Regions from separate parts of the Homo sapiens genome. Here region 1 is linked to region 2. The links come from fine-mapping of genetic effects on plasma protein levels. A gene starts in region 2. The other region holds a variant in brackets. All regions are shown on one strand. Distances are from middle to middle.

Region 1 (11,337 bases), 25 kb before region 2:
GTTTTTTGTTCTTGTGATAGTTTACTAAGTATGATGATTTCCAGCTTCATCCATGTCCCTACAAAGGACATGAACTCATCATTTTTTATGGCTGCATAGTATTCCATGGTGTATATGTGCCATATTTTCTTAATCCAGTCTATCATTGTTGGACATTTGGGTTGGTTCCAAGTCTTTGCTATTGTGAATAATGCCTCAATAAACATACGTGTGCATGTGTCTTTATAGCAGCATGAATGGCAATCATTAAAAAGTCAGGAAACAACAGGTGTTGGAGAGGATGTGGAGAAATAGGAACACTTTTACACTGTTGGTGGGACTGTAAACTAGTTCAACCATTGTGGAAGTTAGTGTGGCGATTCCTCAGGGATCTAGAACTAGAAATACCATTTGACCCAGCCATCCCATTACTGGGTATATACCCAAAGGACTATAAATCATGCAGTAATTCTTAAAAGTAGATGAACAAGGCCAAATAGAAGCAATCAAAGGAAGATGTGGCCACAGAAGAGAGGCACAGAGAGATCGATGTTGCTGGCTTTGAAGATGGAGGAAGGGGGCCACAAGTCAAGGAATGTGGGTGACCTCTGAAAGCAGGAAAAAGCATGAAAACATTCTTCTAGAACCTCCAGAAAGTAACATCGCCCTGCCAACACATTGAATTTAGCCCACTGACACCATTTTGCACTTCTGGAACTGTAAGGTAGTAAGTTTGAGTTGTTTAAGACACTAAGTTTATGATATTTTGTTACAGCATCAGTAGAAAACTGATTTTAGGTAGAAATGCTTTTAGCTGCAAGTGTCAAAAAAACAAATAAACACAAAAAACTAGTGACCTCAATAACTATGGACTTATGATTTTCAATAACGAGAAGCTTGGAGTTAGTGGCATGGTAGTTCAGCTACTCAATGATGTTACGAACGACTCAGGTTCCCCATTCCCCGAAGACTCTCCATCTCTTTTGCCAATCTGACTTTATGTCTTACTGGAAACTGGGTTATACAGCTATACCTAGCTGCAAGGGAAGGTAGAAAGTCTAGTAAACAGTAATAGCATTATCAAGACTAGATCAGCCCAATCATAAATAATTGCTTGGAGCTGCGTATATTGCTGCCCTGAAACAAACTAGCAAGGACACGGGGAGATAAGGAGGTAAATAATCTTTGGCAAAGACATGGTCTAATATCTGCCTGACTCTGAGCAACCTACAAGTCACAAGGGTGTTGGGACAATTATTCATTTCTGCAAGCTCTACAAATCTAAATAGGGCACTTAAAACCAGTTGCATCCAAACAGAGGCATACTACATGTAAAGGGAAGAGGCTAGGGTACATGAATAAATCATGCATAAGAATTAGTACTTAAAATAGATATAAAGGATGAAAGTTACCATTACCGTTTATGAGATAAGGAGACTATCTCCTAGGCCAAGAGAGGTTAAGTGATGTGCCCAAACCCACCTAGTGGGCAAAAGTCTAAGTCCAGAATCTCCTGCTTTCTTCTTCTGCTTTCTTCTGGTTGCAAGAGTAAGTGGATAATCAGTGCTAGCTGGATGCTAGTAGTTTAGAACTTCACAAATCTCTCTCAGAGAGCATCTGAAGGAGGGCAGCCAAGCTGCTATTACTGTGGCCACTGATTGAGGCCAGTTCTGAGGACTGACAAAGGAAAGCATGGAAAGTGGTGTATGCTTTTTGTCCACTTACCACTGGAACTCTTGAATCAGGGTATGATTCCCCTTCTGCCAAAAATAGTTAAGCTTTGCATAATTGCAAACTCTACAGAAATTGAAGGCAATTTATATTCTTAGTTATAAAAACTAATCATTCCTTTTCCGTGGTGTGATGGCTAATTTTATGTCTCCACTTGACTGGGTTAAGGGATGCCCAGATAGCTGGTAAAACATTATTTCGGGCATGTCTGTCAAGGTCTTTTCAGAAGAGATTAGCATTTGAGTCCATAAACCGAGTAAAGATCCTCCCTCACTGATATAGTCAGGCATCATCCAATTCTTTGAGGGCTTGAATGAAACAAACGTCAAGAAAGGGCAAATGTACTCTCTTCTCTTGAGCTGGGACATCCACCTTCTGCCTTCGGATATCAGAACTCCTGGTTCTTACGCTTCACATTCCAGAACTTACACCACAAGCCCCCTGGTTCTCAAGCCCTTTGAACTCAGGTTGAATACCACTGACCTTCCAGGTTCTCCAGCTTACAGATGGCATATTGTGAGACTTCTTAGCTTCTATAATCCTAGGAGCCCATTCTCATGATAAATCCTCTTTTATATATCTATATCTAGATATCTAGATCTATCCTACCAGTTCTGTTTCTCTGGAGAACCCTGACTAATATACCTGATATCAAAGAGTTATTTCAGGATTATGATCACTTCCAAGAGGGAAGGAAAAAGAATGGGATCAAAAGAACTCCATAGAGACTGTCAAGTAAAACTGTAATGTTTCATCTTTCAGAAAAATAAAACACCTGTATAAAAAACAAAACTGGCACAATATTAAGAAATATAAAACTAGTTGATGGGTATAAAGGGTTTTTTTATAGTACACTCTTTTCTACATACTTAAGGTATCTCCTTATTGGGAAATATTACAAATAAGAAGATAATCTAAACTCCACAATAAAAAGGAGGTTGTATTTATGCATTAAGTATGTGTGTGTTGGTGCTGGCTATGAGCTAGGCACTCTTCTAGAAGCTAAATACCTGCAAAGTCACTACCCTCATGGAGATTACATTCTAGGCAAGGCAGACAGAAATAAAACAAATTCACTTCAGTAAATGTTAAATAGTCTGAAGGAATAAAACAAAGGAATGTGATAAAAGTGACCCAGAAGATGTTTTCTATGAGGTGGACCGAAAGACAAACATCACTGAGGAGGTAGCATTTGTTCTGAGATGTGAACAATAAATCAAGTCATTCAAAAAATAAGAATAGTACTCCACAAAAAACAATCAGAAAATGCAAAGGCCTGGAGACCTTTTAATACTGCAAGAACCAATAACTAGCCCAAGGCATAGCAAGTAAGGTGATGAGAGATGCGATTAGAAAGACAGTTGTGAGGGCTTTGTGGTCATGGCAAGACATGTAGATTTTATTTGAAATGCAATGGGCTGCCAATGGATGGAGGGCTGAGGGAAGGGGTTGTAAGGAAGGGAACAAGAACATATTTTACATTAATATGTTATAATCATTTTTTAATAGCACTCTGCTCAATGGGCAATTCAGGAAAAGCAAGAAAAAACAGGTACATGATAATAGGCTATAGTAGTAATTCAAGCAAGAGATGACGCTGGCTTGGAAACAAATCTTAGATTTCTTGTACAGACTTACAAGTCTGACATATGAGAAGGTTAAAGAATAGTATGATAGTAACTTATCATGTTTCCCAGAAAAAAAAATGCATATTCTTTACATGGCAGAAGGTTGGGAAATATTTATATGAATGTGATGAGATTTCAGGTGACTTTATTATCTTCTCTAGATGATTATTTATATATTCTTACTTTTTTTTAATTGACCAGACGTTATTTCTGATTTCCAAATCAGTACAATGTCCAGGAAATCATAATACCCTCTTCCATCTGGCTGTCTTGACAAATGCCTTAGAGAGAGTTCTACTTACTGGCCCTTAGACTCGAACTTTGGACTTCATCCCTATGAGTGCCTGATTTTCACGGCCTGGGAGGGAGGTGATGGTAGGGCTTCATATTTATTTATTTATTTATTTATTTATTTATTTATTTATTTATTTTTGAGATGGAGTCTTGCTCTTTCACCAGGCTGGAGTGCAGTGACATGATCTCAGCTCACTGCTACCTCCACTTCCCGGGTTCAAGTGATTCCTCTGCCTCAGCCTCCCAAGTAACTGGGACTACAGGCACGCACCACCACGCCCAGCTAATTTTTGTATTTTTAGTAGAGACGGGATTTCACCATGTTGGTCAGGATGCTCAATCTCTCAACCTAGTGATCTTCCCACCTTGGCCTCCCAAACTACTGGGATTACAGGTGTGAGCCACCGTGCCTGGCCACGGCTTAATTTTAAATATGTTAAGTGTAAGATGTCCACATTGGTTTGCTAGGGCTGCCGTAACAAAGTACCACATATTGAGTGGCTTAAACCACAGAAATTATTTTTCTCACAATTCTAAAGGCTAGAAGTGCAAGAACAAAGGAATCTTCTGAGGCCTCTCTCCTTGGCTTGTAGATGGCCACCTTCTCCCTGTGTCTTTACATGATCTTTCCTATTTGTGTGTCTGTGTCCTAATCTCTTCTTCTTCTAAGAGCACCAGTCATATTTGATTAGGGCCAGCTAACGACCTTAGTTTAACTTAATTACCTCTTTAAAGAACCTATTTCCAAATATAGTCACATTCAGAGGTAATAGAGATTAGGACTTCAACATACAAATATGGGGGGTAGGGTGGACACAGTTCAGCCCATAACAAAGTCTACCCATGCTGGGCAGGTGGAGGAAGATTTTTAAAGGTTATCAGAAACATGACTCTGCAGTTCAGTTTAGTACACTTGCTGGGAGGTAAATGCGTTAGAGTCTTTCATCTATAAATATGAATGAGCTCACCCTAGGAGAGCTCATAGCATGAGAAAAGTCAATGACAGAAGGAAGCAGAAGGAAAAAGCCTGAGAAAGAGATAGACAAGCTGTGGGCCAAGCAGCAGGAGGAAGACTAGAAGAGAATAAGGACATGCAAGTTTCAAGAAGGGTGGTCAACAGTGTCAAACTGCAGGTCCTGAAAATGTACCCTACAAACAACCCATCTAAGGCCCCTCTTGGATGAAACTTCCAACCTCAGCTCAAACCTCCCACCATGGCTTCCACTGGCAATAAAACAAAATGTAAGCTCAGCCTATCATCCAAGGCCCTCCAGAGTATGATTCTAATTCCCTTTTAAACTTTATGTACCTTTAGTACCCTTCAGCATCCTTCAGCATTAGTGACACAGCATTGTTCCCTAGCTCTGACCCAAAGCTCTGTGGTCTCTTCCTTTTGTGCATGTTACCCCCTCACACAGGAATGCCCTTCCCATTCATCCTGCACACCCTTCAAGGACACCAAAACCCTTAGCAATTTTTCTATACCAAGTTGATTTCTGCATATGTCTATCTGCTGCACTGGGCTGTGGACTCTTTAGGGAAAATCTTGTCTGCTATTTATCGTTGGCACCTCTTGAAGCCTGCCATGGTTCCTGGTACCTAGCAGGTGCTCAAAAAATGGCTTTTTGAATCAATGAACTAATGCTGTTTTGCTCCAAACAGAATTAAATAATAATCCAGCAGCTGACATTTGAAAATGTCGATGCTATTGACTCACCTGTTTGGGGGAAGGGATAAGTTTTCTTTGATGACTTAGTGGCTTTCACATCTGTCAGACGTGTCGTATCCCCTTTAATGGTGGTTGCTTATTACAAGGAGAAACAGTTACTCAGGATTCAGGTAGTTTTGTACAGTGGATTATTATGTCTAGAATTTAATAGCACTCTGCTCTTTGATATTTATTTCA[G/A]GGTCAATAGAAATGTAACCATTCTCACTCCCTATTTGTGTTCAATCTAACCATTTAGCAGGAGGATTAGACCTGCCACACACTGGGTTTTGAAGATTTAAGAATGATTTGTTTGATTTTGATGCTATGTTTCCCAAATACATTCACAGGCAATAATTACATTATTAATATTTTAATCTTTTGAAAGTGTTAACATTCTTCTTAACATGTTAATCTCTGAATATTGAGGATGATGTGTGTATCAGGTTGTTGGCTTGTGTACAAATTTTTTTCTACAATGTTTTAGGGTGATTATGTGTAGAAATAACATAGGGTACTGCTTCCTTCAAGGCCTTTATCAAAATCAAATTGGAATTCTATCGTGAAGAAAGGGTGTTAAGGCATTCACTACTGTAATATGTTCTGTATGATATTGTTCAAAACCTTTCTGTGTCCATTGACACAGGTGACAATGCTTTGAGATAGTTTGGCTACAGTTATTGTCACCATTTTCTTACAAAAACCTTAGATACAAAGAAAGTTTATTTATTTTTCAGAGACAGGGTCTCCTCTGTCACCCAAGCTGGAGTGCAGTGGCATGATCACAGCTCGCTGTAGCCTCAAACTCCTGGGCTCAAGTGATCCTCCCACCTCAGTCTCACAAGTAGCTGGGACCACAGGTGCATGCAGCCATGCCTGGCTAATTTTTATATTTTTTGTAAAGAAGAGGCTTGACTATATTGTCTAGGCTGGTCTCAAACTCGTGGGCTCAAGCAATCCTCCCACCTCTCAGCCTCCCAAAGTGCTGGGATTACAGGCATGAGCCACTGCACCTGGCCAATGTTGCTGTTATTATTATCATCATTACTACATTCTAGGCTATATTTGTACTCTTAGAACAATGTTATAAGGGTATTAAGGATAAATTAGTCAAATGTCTTCCTTGTATGAATTTTATATAAACTAGGATCATGAAATATAATTAACTAATTGATGATATTCTAGAAGATAGAGTATTTAGATGCTCCGGAACTGGAATTCAATCAACTGTGAGAATTAAAATATCCAGTCTCCTCAATGTAATAGAGACAAATTCTCTAGTGGAAATGGTTCAGCAAGGATTTATTAAAACTTTTCTATAGGAGAAAAAGGCTCAGAGGATTTCACCATAAGTAGAAAATATGTAGAATCAAACTTAAACCTGAAGGCTTTGATCTTTCCTTTATAAAATTCAGCAGAAGTCCTTTCAAGAAATGTAATCCATTTTAAATATTTACCAAACCTTATTCTCAGCTGAAATGGGTGTCAAATCTCAAATTAGAAAGTCTCCTTTTTGGTTCTGGTCCCTTTGGATTTGGTTGCAGCATTTCCTATTATCTGTACTATAAAGAGAAGAGCCTTAGCACAAAAAGCTTCACTATCAGTGATGGAAATTGACAAATCAGTGAAAGAAAAACAAGGCAGCCAAAGAGGAAGTGGATCTCCTGTGTGTTCTTTAAAGGGGAAAACCACTTTTTTGACTATTAAGAACACAATGAAAGTAAAGCCTTAAGACAATATTTCCACCACAGACACAAGGGATGAATATTAAGCCTCTATTATGAGCCAGATAATACATATATCCTATGAATCTATCTTCACATAACCTTATAACAAAAGAATATTATTTCTCATCAATCTAAAATGCTTCAGAGACTCAGAGAAGTGAGTGGCCTGTGGTCACACAGCTAGTGAAACACAAAAGTGAATTTCAGTCCCAAAACCTGAATCCCCTCAGATACCTCAGGCTGTCCTTTTTCAACTGCTCAACAAAAGTTTACAGAAGTGCATCATTTTAAGCCGATTAGGAAACAGCTGGAGAAACGATAATATATAGATTCTACTCTCTGGGTGTTTATAGCCCCAGAAGACAGAACAGCAAATGTGTTAAGACAGCCGTGAGAAGACTAAAAAAAGGAAGCCACAGAAGAGCAGCCGAAACTCATACCTGCTCGGTCATTACAGGTCTCAAAAGGGATTGCACTTTCAAAGACACATCTGTGACACCATATAGATTTATAAGTATGCAAACTGAGAAAACATCATGAATTAATTTCATTAGCAGAACCCCAGAAATTCCATCCCTAAGCGGCCACCTAGGGTTGATCTCTAGGCATTTTTGAATTTTACTTATTTACTTTTTTGAGATAAAAACATTTTGCCTTTAATAATCTTTAAGGTATCGACTCTATTATTCCCTACACTTATGGTATTATAGTTTTCCACATTAGTTAGCAAGGTTAATTTATTAAAATACAATAAAAATTTATTGCCTACTAAATACATAATATTAATTATAAAACCAGTACCTACAGAGTTACCAACCCAGTATGGATTGCAGAATAAGGATGAGAAGAAGGTAATTGAATGACTACCAACCATGTTTTAAAACACAAAGACAACTTTCTTCTCAGAGATACCTGTTAACCTTCAACATCTCAGTTAAGTTTTAAAGGATACTGTTCTGTTTTGGTTAAAGAAAAGTATAGATTCATACAACTGTATCTTAAGCTTCAGACAAATTAGAATTAACTGCTTTATAATTTCTCCTACATTGGCACACCAGCCAGAATAATGAGGGCTGATGCTATGCTGAAATTAGAGTGAATCTAAAATCATAAGTCACAAAGAGTTTTTACAGTCTATAAATTGTCTCTTTTCCTGTCACGCCTACCCCATATGCAGTCACCATCATAGTAAACTATCATTCACAGTAAACTATCATTTTTCCTACCATGTTCTTTTATCTCAGTCAGGATGATAGGATTTTCAATTCTTCTGTCTTCATCCATCATCAAAACTTTATTGGGCTCCTGCTATGTGCTAGGCAACATACCATGAGCTGGAAATACCGGAAAAAGAATGAAAGGACCCATCTTCTCCCAGATATATACTAACTGTTTACCCCAAGAGCAAATCTCCTTGCTTAAATAGTAGTAGCAAGAGATGAGTAAAGTGGTTAAGCTAGCCTAGGAATGGCAAATAAGATAGCTCAGCAAAGCAATTAGGAGCCCTGGAGTCAGATTGTTGACACTCAAATCTTGATTCCACCTAGTTGTTTGACCTTGAACAAGTCACTAAAGTCTTCTGTGCCTGTCTCCTCATCATTAAAATATAAATAATAATAGTACTTAGCACATATCATTGTTCCAGGATTTAAAAAGAGAATACATGTTGATTACTTAGAATAATTTCTAGCACATAAATGTTCCATAAATGTTGGTGTGTCTTTCTTGCTAAGCTGATTAGTACTTATAACTAGTTGGGGTTTTAGGGGTACAGACATGATAAATAGGGATGCAAAATATTTATTAGAGAGTGATACCTGTAAAGGAAAATGAAGAAAAGGAAGGAATGGGCAGGGAGAGTGATCTTTACTTGCCTATCTGGGAGCTCTGGAGGACAGATTGTCCTTTAGAGGTGTCCCACATTGGAGAGAAATGGCTGGGTCCTTGCACCACAGCCCTGCTCAAGCATTGGAAAGGAGATGCCCATGGAAGAACCTCAACTCAAAAGCCGAGACAGATCCTGAAGGACCTAATAGCTGAAGGCTGCTAGTAACTCTACTCTTGGCAGGTAGGCAGCAAGTCCTTTCCCAAAGGGAGACCTGAGCATGCGTCTCCCTCCATCTTGGCTACAGGGGTTATTGTCTGGTGTGTTGGCCTGGAAGGGTTCTCAGGAAGTGTTGAGATTCAATGGACAAAGGCAAGTGGAGACATCATGATTGACTGAGACGTCAACCACAGGCCTTGAGCAAGAAGGAGAAGCCTACTTGCAGGAATTGGTTCTACTAGAACAGATTGTCTCAAAAGCTCCCCCACCTCTGACAAGCCCTGTTCTCTATTCCTTCTCCAGTAGTTTCTCTAAGACCCCAAGGATGGCAGAAGGGCCCGGACGCTAGGACCCTTCCTGCTTCCTAAACACTGTACTGCATATACCATGCTCTTCTGAGGGAGGAGTTACAGAATCCTAGAGTATCACCCAAGCTCCACCCTCAGCCTTGGCTATGTGTGCTCTTCCTGGTACCTCTTCTAAGGGCCAGAAATTCTCAGATGCATTCGGTGTCAGTCCACACCTGGAAGAGCCAGAGCTTGACATAGACAGAGCACCACTAATTATTTGCACCCCACTTTATTCCAAAATGGATTTACAGAATCTTCAAAAACAGTATACTGGCTCAGGAGATAGAGACCATCCTGGCTAACAAGGTGAAAACCCGTCTCTACTAAAAATACAAAAAATTAGCTGGGCATGGTGGCACACACCTATAGTTCCAGCTACTCAGGAGGCTGAGGGAAGAGAATCACTTGAACCCGGGAAGCGGATGTTGCAGTGAGCCGAGATCGCACCACGGCACTCCAGCCTGGGTGACAGAGTGAGACTCCATCTCAAAAAAAAAAAAAAAAAAAAAAGTATACCTAGGTGAATTCGTCTAATAAGGACTTTTATCTAAATTAATGGTATACAAGTGAAGGGAAACTAACAAAATATAGGCAGTGCAAATGTGGGGAAAGTTTCTGCAGAAAAATGGCTTTGGATAAAAGTAAAATGCTATCAGGGAACAAAGTCAGAATTATCATCTCAAATAGGTAATAGATAATTTAAACACTTGGGTATTTTCTTGTTTTGCAACTGTGCTCTCAGCAGTAGGAATCTGTGATTTAGTAATAGGGCTCATTTTTGCTGTCCATCGCATTTCATTTATGGATAGGCACAGTGAGCCTCCAGGTTGTGGCGGCTGCGTGTTCAGCTGCACCTGCCAGAGAGCAGGAAGGCTGAGCAGCTGATGGCAATATCTAGTTCTATCTCTCACCTGGTGGCAGCCACCTGCACTGGGGTAAATCTCCTAGGAAAAACTAGAAGTCTTAATTGCAGTTTTAAAGTCTTAAACCTCAGAACTCCAAGTATACAAAGGAAATAAGACAGCCTCTGATGTTGCTACCTGAATTTCTGATTCCAAATGCCAGTTTACATTTTAAAGAATATTTCTTTGTGAAGTCTAACTCTCATGGTCATAAGCAGTGCCTAGAATGGATCTGGTTTATCAGTTCAGTAAATGCTTGCTGACTGTTCAAGAAATAACAAGGCAAAACTGTTCCCCATCCTTGAAGTTCATGAAACAGGTTTGTTAAGTTTAAGACCAACACTCGTCATATATTATATGTTGGTCCTAATGTCCTGTTAATGAGTTTGAATCACGGGTATACCTTGCCCTTTTCCCCCTTACTCACCACCCTCATCTATCTAAACCATCATCAACATCTCACTGCCTCTCGAGCCCGTTAGGACACCTCCCCTTGATTTCTGTTCTCTAAAGCCTTTGATAACAACCTAGCACAGTCAAAACAGAGGTGCCAGGGCCTTCAGATTGGGCTTCCCACCCATCACCTCACCTTGGAAATTTAGACTGCAACTTACTTCAAAGGTCAAGAATGCAAATGGCCTGGAGGTGAGCTTTGGGATAGTTCCAACTAAACTGCTAATTGGATTCCTTCAAAATGCTACAGTCATGGTCGTCTTTCCCATTTCCAGGCAACAAAGTACCAGGGAATGCTCAGTGACTCATCCTCTGCAGCTGATTCGAAGGCACCTGAGCACCTCAGGCTGAACAGGTGGGGTCTGTCTTCTGTAATTTACTTGATAGAGCTCTTTGCATAGTCAAGTGCTAGAGGAAATGAAAACTACAGACATTAGTTCTCAAGCACCTTCTGAAGAAACCCAGGGATGACCTCAGCTACATGTTTGATACCAAGAAACTGGGTTTTAAAGGCCTTTCAGCTT
Region 2 (11,337 bases):
CTAGGATTTTGAGACCAGCCTGGCCAACATGGCGAAATCCTGTCTCTACTAAAAATACTAAAATTAACCAGTCATGGTGGTGGTGTGCCTTTAGTCCCAGCTACTCTGGTGGCTGAGGCACAAGAATCACTTGAACCTGGGAGGCAGAGGTTGCAGTGAGCTGAGACTGTGCCACTTCACTCCAGCCTGGGTGACAGAGTAAGATTCTGTCTCAAAAAATATGTATATATACACACATATAATAGATACATAAACATATATAAATATATAATATATAAATATATATATTATATATAATATATAAACATATATAAAATATATATATATATATATATATAAACCAAACATAAAGGAATAATTTTGGGGGAAAATCTTCATAAATGAAAGAACAACATAGGCTGTTGAGTATATGCACAGAAATTCAAGAGATCTTCCAGCAATTGAAGACATTGGTTTACCAGAATTCACAAAAGAAGTCAGCTGTGCATTTAAAGTAGAATGTGATGAGTGTTACCACTGAGGTAGGAACTGGGAACTAAGGAAGCGTAAGACAGAAAGTGCTGAACTGAGAGTTGGGCATTGGAGGCTGTGTAAGGCAGGGTAAGTGAATGTCTCCTAGAAGCTACCTTTAAATGGAGTTTTGAAGTACTTGTAGGAGTAGCTTAGGTGAAAAGAAGAGGAGAAACATGTATCAGGCAGAGGGACTAGAACCTTATTACCTTCAAAGAAGAAGCAAAAAGAATACATGTGACTTTGAGGTGGTGGGAGGTGCTTTAAGCCAATATAGGTGAATTTGACATAGGACTTCCCTAAATAATGTTCGGTCATTTGTTAAATATTGAGTGATATATCACTGTATTAAAGCCCAAGAGTTGCTTTTATATAGAAAGAAGAAAAAAGCCCAAGAGAGTTTTATTTCTAGAGGGAATATTTTCTAGAAATAAAGGAAGGTGTATCAGCCAGTTTCTAGTCAGGAAAACAGAAATCACACCTGATATGCAAAATAGAGGAAAATCAGGGAATTCATTAATCCAGAGATTTGGTTGCTCAAGTATTAGATTGCTGAAAAGCCAGACAGGGAATATGAGGCAATCAGAGATAAGTATTAGTGACAAGCTCCATTTATGTGCAGGATTGGAGGGACATAGGTGGGGTTCCCAGAAGCCAGAAGGTGAGACCACCTAGCAGAAGCTCAAACCACAGCTGGGGTTTCCTCACAAAAGCTGGGACCACCAGGAGGAGCTGTCCAATGGGATCTGGAGCCAGGGAGATCATGCAGTCACTACCAGGAAGGGAAGCAGAATGTAAAAGGTAGAGAGAAATACTCCAACTGCTTCCTTGCATTCACTTTCCAATCTCCATTCACAAAGGCAAAAACCTGCTAATACAGCAGAGTGGGAAAAGCAGCCTGCCAAGGTCCTTTCTCCCACAAAACAGAGCACAAAACCAAGCAAAAACAAGGAATGCATTTGATAGCAAACAGGCTATGGACCAACCCAACATAAAAGAAATGATGAGTGATTTCTTTTTTCATTTGGTTCAAGAAAAGTATTTCAGTAACTATTATGTAACAGAAATTCTATTTATTTTGGGGAATTCAAAGGTGAATAAAAAAGAACTCTAAATTTTTATCAATAAAATATTTCAAAAACCTCAATGAGAGTAATGGCATTAACTAGCAAATATGCTAATGAGATGAGCTAGCCATAAGAGGCTTAGAATTGAGAGAAAGGTCTGGGGGCCTCTTGACAGGCCAAATTCAGAGCTGTTTGTGGGAATCTCTGACCTAACTGCAGGTGGAAATATAAATATGGGCATTTAGAATAGTGGCCCAAACTTTGGATGATTTCTGTCTTGGGGTCTCTCCAATTAATGGGATTGATGAGAACTGTAGACCACTGAGGTCACCATGGCTCAATGAATAGTCCCCTGGCTTTGGAGTCAAACTGACCTGAATATGAACCCCAGCTTTGCTACTTACAGGTTGCATTTATCCTCAGTTTTCTCATCTTTCAAAGAAGAACAGTAACTTCTTTAAAAGGTTATTGTAGGCTGGGTGCAGTGGCTCACGCCTGTAATCGCAGCACTTTGGGAGGCGGAGGCTAGTGGATCACTTGAGGCCAGGAGTTGGAAACTAGCCTGGCCAACATGGTGAAACTCTGTCTCTACAAAAAGAAATTTAAAAAATTTTGCTGGGTGTGGTGGCACACACCTGGAATTCCAGCTACCTGGGAGGCCGAGGCATGAGCATCACTTGAGTCTGGAAAGCAGAGGGTTGCAGTGAGCCAAGATTGTACCACTGTACTCAAGCCTGGGTGACACAGTGAGACCTTGTCTAAAAAAAAAAAGGTTATTGTGTTATTGTAAATATTGTATATGAACTTCTATTTAACATGTTTAGTTAAATGCCTGTGTAATTGTCCAATGTGCTCTTCTAGCTCACTGCACAGACAAAACTGATTCACTGAAATCATGGAATTGCAGCAAAGAACAAATCTAATTAATGTAGGTCAAACGGGAGGACTGGAGTTATTATTCAAATCAGTCTCCCTGAAAACTCAGAGGCTAGGGTTTTATGGATAATTTGGTGGGCAGGGGACTAGGGAATGGGTGCTGCTGATTGGTTGGGGAATGAAATAGTAAGATTGTGGAAAACTGTCCTCCTTCATTGAGTCTGCTTCCGGGTGTAGGCCACACGACCAGTTGAGTCATGAAGCATGCGTCCAAGTGGAGTCAGTTTGTTGCCAGAATGCAAAAGCCTGAAAAATGTCTCAAATGATCAACTGTAGGCTCCACAATAATGATATTATCTATAGGAGCAATTGGGGAAGTAACAAATCTTGTGACCTCTGGACACATAACTCCTGAACTAGTAAGGGATTATAAAAACCATGCCTATATCTTATCAGAATTCAGGTCCCCCCATAATCCTAATCTCACAGCATTTCATTTGTTTAGAAAGGCCATTTTCAGTCCCTGAGCAAGGAGGGGGTTAGTTTTAGGATAGGACTATTATCCTTGCTTCGTTAAACTATAAACTAAATTCCTCCCATGGTTAGCTTGGCCTACACCTAAGAATGAGTGAGAACAGCCAGCCTGTGAGGCTAGAGGCAAGATGGAGTCAGCCATGCTAGATTTATCTCACTGTCATAACCTTTGCAAAGGCAGTTTCACCTGGGACATAGGAGGTACTCAATGAAAAAGAAGCTATTAATATTAATATTTTAAAAATGAATTTAAGGAACTAATACTATGTACATATTAGTCATTAAAACAAAGTGGTTCATTTACATTCACACAAATAAATCTTGTGATTATACATAGGTAATATGAAAAACTTTGTTTTCTTTCATAATACAAGGTATTAGCAATAGATATAGTAATGTTAGCATTCCTTTGGAAAAAATGAAAAGATTTATAATTTTCCAAGAATCATTAGTATTTTTATTTAATATACATAATATAAAATTTATTCATTCTATAACTTGGAAATATGCTTGCTTACCAATTACTGACAGATTTCAAAATATTTCTATACTCACAATATTCATTTACATAAATATTGATTTGGTACTTACAATGTGTACTGCTATGCTAAGTTTTGTCTTTGTCAAACATATTTTATAAAATCATAATCCTAGATGAATCCAACTTTTGGTAACCCACGTGCCTGAACCCCTGCTGTTAACAGGCAAAGTGTGGTAGGTACAGATCTATACCTACCACCTTCCTCTACCCACCAGCATCTGCACCCACCACCCCTCCCCACCCACCATTATCTATACCAACCACCCCTCCCAACCTACCAGCATCTGCACCCACCACACCGCCCACCCACCACCATGTACACTCACCACACCTTCCAGCCATCACCATCTGCACCCATCACTCCTCCCCATCCACAAGCATCTGCACCCACCACATTTCCCTACCTACCAGCATCTTCACTCACCACCTCTCCACCCACCAGCATCTGCACCCACAACCCCTCCTCACCCACCAGAGTCTGCATCCATCACACTTGCCCACTCGCTAGCATCTGCACCATCAAGCTCTGCCTTCTTGCCTAATACGGGATGAGCTCTCCATGGTTCTGCCTAAAGACAATGCTTCCACTCCTCTTCTATAACCCATTTCCTTTTACCTCTTCAAGTACACTTCAGAACTTCTCTCTCCTTCTGATACCAACTTTTTCCACTTTACTCAATCATTCCTATCACCATACAAACGTGTTTATTTCTCCCATCTTAAAGTTAAAAATCAAAAGAAAATTGTCTGCGGCCAGGCACGGTGGCTCACGCCTGTAATCCCAACACTTTGGGAGGCCAAGGAGGGTTGGATGACTTAAGGTTAGGAGTTCAAGACCAGCCTGGCCAACATGGTGAAACCCATCTCTACTAAAAATACAAAAATTAGCCAGGCATGGTGGCACATGCCTGTAGTCTCAGGTACTTGGGAGGCTGAGGCCAGAGAATGGCTTGAACCCGGGAGGCAGAGGTTGCAGTGAGCCGAGATTGTGCCCTTGCACTCCAGCCTGGGTGACAGAGTGAGACTCCATCTCAAAAATAAAAAATAAAAATAAAACAAAAGAAAGTTATTTTTACCCAACATCCACATTAACCAAATACCCATTTCTTTATTGATCTTTGTAAAAAAAAGCTCTTGGAAAAATTGTCTATATTCACTATGACTTATCTCCTCCAAATCACTTAAACACATACCAATCAGGTTTTTGTTTTCATCATTCCAAAGTAACTTTTACAGCCAAGGACAGTAGCGAACTTTACATCGCATATGCATTGTGAAGTTCTTGATCCTCATCTTACTTAACCTGTCAGCAGTATCTGACACAGGTGTCACTGGCTCCTCCCTGAGATGCTCTCTTTATTTGGCTTTTGGGACACCATATTCTCCCCATTCCTACTTTCCTCAATGGCCCTCCTCAGTCTCCTTTGGAAAGAGGAAAAAGAAACTTCATTATCTCCTGGATGTAGTACAAACAACTCAAGCTCAACATGTGCATACTGAACTCCATTTCCTTTTCCCAAACTTCGACATTTACAGCCATCCCCTTTCAGCTGATAGCAAGTTTATCCTTCCAGCTACTCAAACCAGAATCTTTAGAGCCATCCTTGACCCTTTTCCTCCTCTCACACTCAACATCTATCCATCAGAAAATTTTGTTGGTTCTACTTTCAAAATGCATACAGAGTCAGAGCATGTCTCATTACCTCCAATAGCTACCATACTAGTCTGAACAAACATCATTTCTCACCTGGGTTATTGAACAAACATCATTTCTCACCTGGGTTATTGATAGCATCCTAACGGGTCTTCCTGTTTCTTGGTTCCCCTATATTAGCAACACAGCAGTCAGAGGAGTCCTTTTAGAACTCAATCAGATCATGTCACGTCACTCCTCTACTTAAAATCCTTCAATGGGTCCCATTACACAAAGAGTACAAACCAGAGCCCTTACACTGGTCTACAAGTTCCAACATTTGACTCCTGTTATCTCTCTGACATCATATTCTAATATTACTGCTGTTGTCCTTTTGCTCCAGTCACACTGTTTGATTAGTAAATATTTATTAAACAAAGCAATCCTAGTCTCCAAAGAGATCATAGTTTATTGGAGGAAACAAGAGCCTATAAATGGTTACACACAGAAGGTAGTGATTATGGTTCTCCCTCACCTCCCATCCTAAACTTTGACAGGTGAAACTCCCCTGGATGTTGAAGGTTGAGGAATTTGCCAGGGTTCAGGGTGGTGTTGGAGGAGGCAGGGAGGAAGCAAGGACATTTCAGGCAGGAAGAACATTACATGCAAAGATCTAAAGATATGAATCAGCAACATATTTATGGAATTACAAGTAAAGTAGAAAGTTCTTGCTAAAACATCAAAAAATAAAGATTTGTGATTAGGGGGCCAGAATGTGGGAGGGAAAGAGAGATACAGTTCACACTTTAGACAGGAGCCAGATCATGAAATGTTTTCTCTTTGTTTGTTTCTTCCTTCACAGCTTTTGATATGCTCTTGGAGCAATTTATTAACCATATTTTTTAATGCATCTCCTGAACAGAGTCAAAGCAATACTTGGAAAGGACTCTGAATTTCCTGATTTAAAGATACAAAAGAAAAATCTGGAGTCACAATTAATTTGAGAAGGTAAAGGAGTGGGTGTGCTACTGTATCAAATTTAATTTGTACAAAATCATCATCTCTAGTAACATTATTTTTTCTAATCTACTGCGTTTAGACTACTTTAGTAAAGCTTGATCTCCCTGTCTATCTAAACACTGATTCACTTACAGCAAGCTTCAGGCTAGCATTGGTCATATTAATACCCAACAAATCCACAAGGTGTTAGTTGCACATGATTTTGTATAAAAGGTGAACTGAGATTTCATTCAGTCTACAGCTCTTGCCAGGCAAGGCAGCCGACCACAGGTGAGTCTTGGCATCTACCGTTTTCAAGTGGTGACAGCTACTTTTGAAATTACAGATTTGTCAGGACATGGAGGACAAAACTAGAGCTTCTCACTACTGTTGTGTAGGAAATTTATGCTTGTCAACCTGGCTTGTAAAATATGGTTAATATAACGTAATCACTGTTAGCAAGTAACTGACTTTATAGACCAATATGCCTCTCTTCTGAAATGGTCTTATTTTAAACAAATGTGAGCAAAAGAAAATATTTATGAGATTCTAAAAATGAAGACATAATTTTGTAGTATAGAATTTTCTTGGCCAGGAATGGTGGCTCATGCTTGTAATCCCAGCACTTTGGGAGGCCAAGGTCAGAGGATTGCTTGAGCCTGGAAGGTTGAAGATGCAGTGATTCATGATTATACCACTGCACTCCAGCCTGGGCAACAGAGCAAGACCCTGTCTCAAGAAAAGAAAAGAATTTTATTTTTCTTTTCAGACAAAAATAGACTTTAAAATAATAATGGAAGAACAAATATGATGATCACAATTATCAGAGTAATTACTTTATGACAGTCAGCAATAAGATTCTAATCTTTAAATATTCCTCTGCTTAAATCATTATATTGGAGTTTTGATCTATAATATATTCCCACCCTGACCCAAAAATTGAAGAAGGACAAGGAAAAATGTTGTTCCAAGAAACAAAGATGTAAGTAAAAAGGCATAAGGAAGGAAAAAAAACTTTTGAAGCAAAATGTGATTGAGGAGGATGAGCAGACCAATTATTTTTGGTTTGGTCAGCTTACATAATGATTATCGTTCTTTGGTTTCTCAGTTTCTAGTGGGCTTCATTGTTTGCTTCCCAGACCAGGATGAAGACACTCCAGTTTTTCTTCCTTTTCTGTTGCTGGAAAGCAATCTGCTGCAATAGCTGTGAGCTGACCAACATCACCATTGCAATAGAGAAAGAAGAATGTCGTTTCTGCATAAGCATCAACACCACTTGGTGTGCTGGCTACTGCTACACCAGGGTAGGTACCATGTTTTGCTGGAAGCAAGGGTGTTGAAGGTCTGTATTAGGCCGGTTTCATTAGTTTCTACTTTATCAATATTTTATGTATTCTAAGTAACAGCCATGAGTCCTTTAGCCAAGACTGTCTGTGTTGTGATTGGGGTTAATGACCACGATATCACTTAGATGTTTGGGCTTGGATTTGATTTGGGTAAATTTAGGAAAGCCTCAGATTTAATCTGATCAATTTGGTACTAGTCCAACTTTGCATCTACAGGGAAAAAGTATTTCTATGTTACGTTTTTACACATAGAGAGATAAACATGGAAACATACATATATTTAATCATAAAGGACCTATAATATTCTCATAAAGGCAATTTCTTTAACTGACACTACATCTTTGACACAAAATCACACCAAAATATGTCTCCAAGTCACATAAAAACATAGACAGCCACTTAAAAAAATTGTCTTCCTGGCCCTACTAAATACAAATGCCAAAAAACAGCCTGAGAACACAATCAATTCTTGCAGACTGTTAGAACAAAAATGAATCAGCAAACCCACTCCCTTCGTTATAGCATTGAGAAAACCAAGACATAGAGGCATCAGTTGCTAGTCTGTGTTTGCAGTTTCCTTGCATTAATACAAGTAGAGAAATAGTTTCCATGGTGCTTTCTTTTTTCTCTGCAGCACCCCTAATTATCTATGCAGAATTTCATTCTATAAACTAAAATTGAAAATGGCAACTTTTTAAATGAACGATACTTTATTTGACGGTAAATGAGTTTGATCAAACTCCATTTATTACACAATTTATTGCACCTTCTTGGGATATACATTTGGTAGGATGATATTAAAATAAACAGAAGCCCCAATTTCTCTACGCAGTATAAATAATTTTTCCACTGGAAAGTGCTACTACAAATAATTTCTACCTGGATTAAAAATTCTTATATGCAAACTGCATATCCTTTGAAACTAGGAACCCTGCAAAGTATACAGCTTTCAAGGGAGAAAAATGTCCACAAGGAGTTGGAATATTTAAAATCTTATGTTAGCCTTAGCAAACATGTTAACTTAAGCATTAAAATTTAAAATTATATATTTTTGACCTTTTATAAATACTCAGGGCAGTGTATTTTAAAATATTTTTTCTGAGACATTGGATATCTTTGTTTATGGTTTGTTATTAATACAGCTTTCAATTAAATATGAAAAGTCAACTTAAAATCCTGTCATGTTTTTCATCATTTTTCTATGCTAAAATTCAAAGTTCCTTTATATTTTGAAAAATAGTTAATATTTTGATATAGCCATAGGAAGTAAGAAAAGAAATTACTTGTATTTTCTGGAAGATTTCAAGAACAATTTAGAAATGTAAATAGCATATAGGTCATTTATGAGGTCATGTTTTAATGGGTAAATGTTAGAGCAAGCAGTATTCAATTTCTGTCTCATTTTGACTAAGCTAAATAGGAACTTCCACAATACCATAACCTAACTCTCTTCTTAAACTCCTCAGGATCTGGTGTATAAGGACCCAGCCAGGCCCAAAATCCAGAAAACATGTACCTTCAAGGAACTGGTATACGAAACAGTGAGAGTGCCCGGCTGTGCTCACCATGCAGATTCCTTGTATACATACCCAGTGGCCACCCAGTGTCACTGTGGCAAGTGTGACAGCGACAGCACTGATTGTACTGTGCGAGGCCTGGGGCCCAGCTACTGCTCCTTTGGTGAAATGAAAGAATAAAGATCAGTGGACATTTCAGGCCACATACCCTTGTCCTGAAGGACCAAGATATTCAAAAAGTCTGTGTGTGTGCAATGTGCCCAGGGGACAAACCACTGGATCAGGGGATTCAGACTCTACTGATCCCTGGTCTACTGGCAGAGGGAACTCTGGGAATTGAGAGTGCTGGGGGCCAGGACTCCATCATGATTCAGCTCTATATTCCTAGGTCTGATTTCATAAGGTTTATTCAGTCTTAACTCACAGACTTGTGCCTGGTTTCTTCTTTAAAAATCTTAGAAATCTTCTCAGGCAATGCCTCTCTCTTAGGGGGAAACATAAGCCTAGAAGGAGGAAGCAGTAATGGGAGTGAGTGAAAGAACTAACTGCAGCAGTCTTCTGGTAGACTCTTGGGCCCTCTAGAGCAAGGTCAGCATCTTCAGCATTGTAGCGTCAATGCCTAGCACTCTGCCTGGAACTTAGAAACACAACAATGACTTCTTTAGATCAGAAAGGTCAAGGGTAGAAAATACTGGAAGACGATGTTTGAGGTAAGCTGATGAGGCTGCCCGCAGCCACACCAGTCCCATGAAAGTTAGTGGCATCAGTTCCACCTCGCCTTTTCTCCAGCACATGGAGTATTGAGACATGATGTATCTTTCTGAATTGTTTGGTACAGATGGGGAGTAACAGAGCTCAAGATTTCCAAGCTATTACTACCAAGCCTGTTAGTTAAGGGCAAAGGCAAGAAATTGTAATTTGGGGCTGTGGAAATTAGCCTGCCTCTATTCATTACTTAAACAAATTGATCACATGCTACTAGGCTCCTGCAAAACTCCTTTTTGAGATAAAGGGAAAAAACCAAACTATCTCACCCTACCCTCCCTAGGATCCACTTCTTTGGAATGACAAAGGATTTGAAAGTAGGTTTGAAAGCAGTTTCAGCAATTTAATAAATATAATTAATTTGTCTACAAATATATTTGTATAAATAAATAGCTCCTTTAGAAAGAATTAGCCATGGGGGACGAGGGGAAACTGCTGTTTTCTAGGATCCTGTCTACATCAATCTTCTATTTTATCCATCCATGTTCTCCCAAATCTGTGCTTTCTTTCAACAGGTTATATATTAAAACTATTTCATGAGTTGATTTCTTTTAAACGTGTTAACTGTCTTAGTTATGCACTCAGTTTCACACTCATATTGTTTAACTAATTTATTTAAATCTTATTTTTTTAATAAAGATGCTAGCCACCAGAGTCACAGGCTTGGATTGTTTTATGTACAAACAGATGACTTAGATATTCTGTATTTTATAATATTAGTGGAATGAAATCTTAAAATATAATTCCCAGTGTTTCTATAAATATTACCTTTCCTTATCTTTGGAGATATTAAAAATAATTTTGTTGGATTTCTGAAGTGTTTTGTCACTTAAATTTCCTGTCATTTTTTGAAGACATTTTCTGATGTAATTTGGGAGAAAAAAAGCATAGAGAGAATCACAGAATGGGTGGAGATACTAGAGTTTCTATAGTTTACTTCTTGAATTTTTGAGATGGAAAAATTAAAGCCCAGTGATATTAAGTGGCCCACCCAAGATCACTGTCCTAGTCCTTTTGGGCTGCTATGACAGAATACCTTAGACTGGGTAATTAATAAACAACAGAAATTTATTGCTCACAGTCTGTAGGCTGGGAGGTCCAAGATCAAGGTGCCAGCGGATTTCTTGTCTGGGGAGGGAGGGCCTGCTCCCTACTTCAATGCTGGTGACTTTTTGCTGCATCCTCATACAGTGGAAACAACGGAAAGCTCCCTCAAGTCTCTTTTATAAGAGCACTAATCTCATACATAAGAGGTCCATTTTCATGATCTAATCACCTCCTAAGGCCCAACTTCTTAATACCACCACAATAAAGATCAGGGTTCAACATGAATCTTGGAGCAACATAAACGTTCAGACCACAGCAATCACAAAGACTGTTTGTGGCAGAGCCAGGATTAGAATCCTAGCCTCCTTGCTCTTAATCCGGCTCTCCTTTGACTACTCCACCATAATAAGAAGTCATTTTGGTAAAGATTGAAGCAAAACTACAGATATTATTATAATAATCATCTCTGTCCCTTCTAATCTGGTATTGGGTGTGGCTTATA

Direction of the effects. Alleles are on the strand shown, and positions count from the first base shown. The strength of an association depends on the size of the effect and on how common the allele is.
As copies of A replace G in region 1, the plasma level of the protein whose gene starts at base 6,417 in region 2 goes down (moderate association).

What was found. A credible set is the group of variants that fine-mapping cannot tell apart. PIP is the posterior inclusion probability: the model's chance that the variant is causal. Protein levels are from antibody-based Olink assays in UK Biobank. Linkage for the fine-mapping came from a reference panel and not from the study's own genotypes, which makes the PIPs less certain.
Region 1: its variant is the best candidate, but not a certain one, in a credible set for the plasma level of the FSHB protein (UK Biobank, PIP 0.55).

What each region holds. Positions count from the first base shown.
Region 1 is chr11:30,199,443-30,210,779 of GRCh38, forward strand. The region is part of intron 1 of ARL14EP-DT (ARL14EP divergent transcript); the gene reads right to left. Among named protein-coding and RNA genes, the nearest start is that of FSHB, 26 kb to the right of the region's middle. RefSeq lists an enhancer at 7,337-7,416. The variant G/A (reference allele first, on the strand shown) is at 5,539.
Region 2 is chr11:30,224,598-30,235,934 of GRCh38, forward strand. It overlaps FSHB (follicle stimulating hormone subunit beta), which reads left to right and starts at 6,417. Exons shown (of 3, transcript NM_001382289.1): 1 at 6,417-6,451; 2 at 7,269-7,464; 3 at 8,973-10,597. The coding sequence starts at 7,306. The coding sequence ends at 9,203. All of the region lies in intron 1 of ARL14EP-DT (ARL14EP divergent transcript), which reads right to left.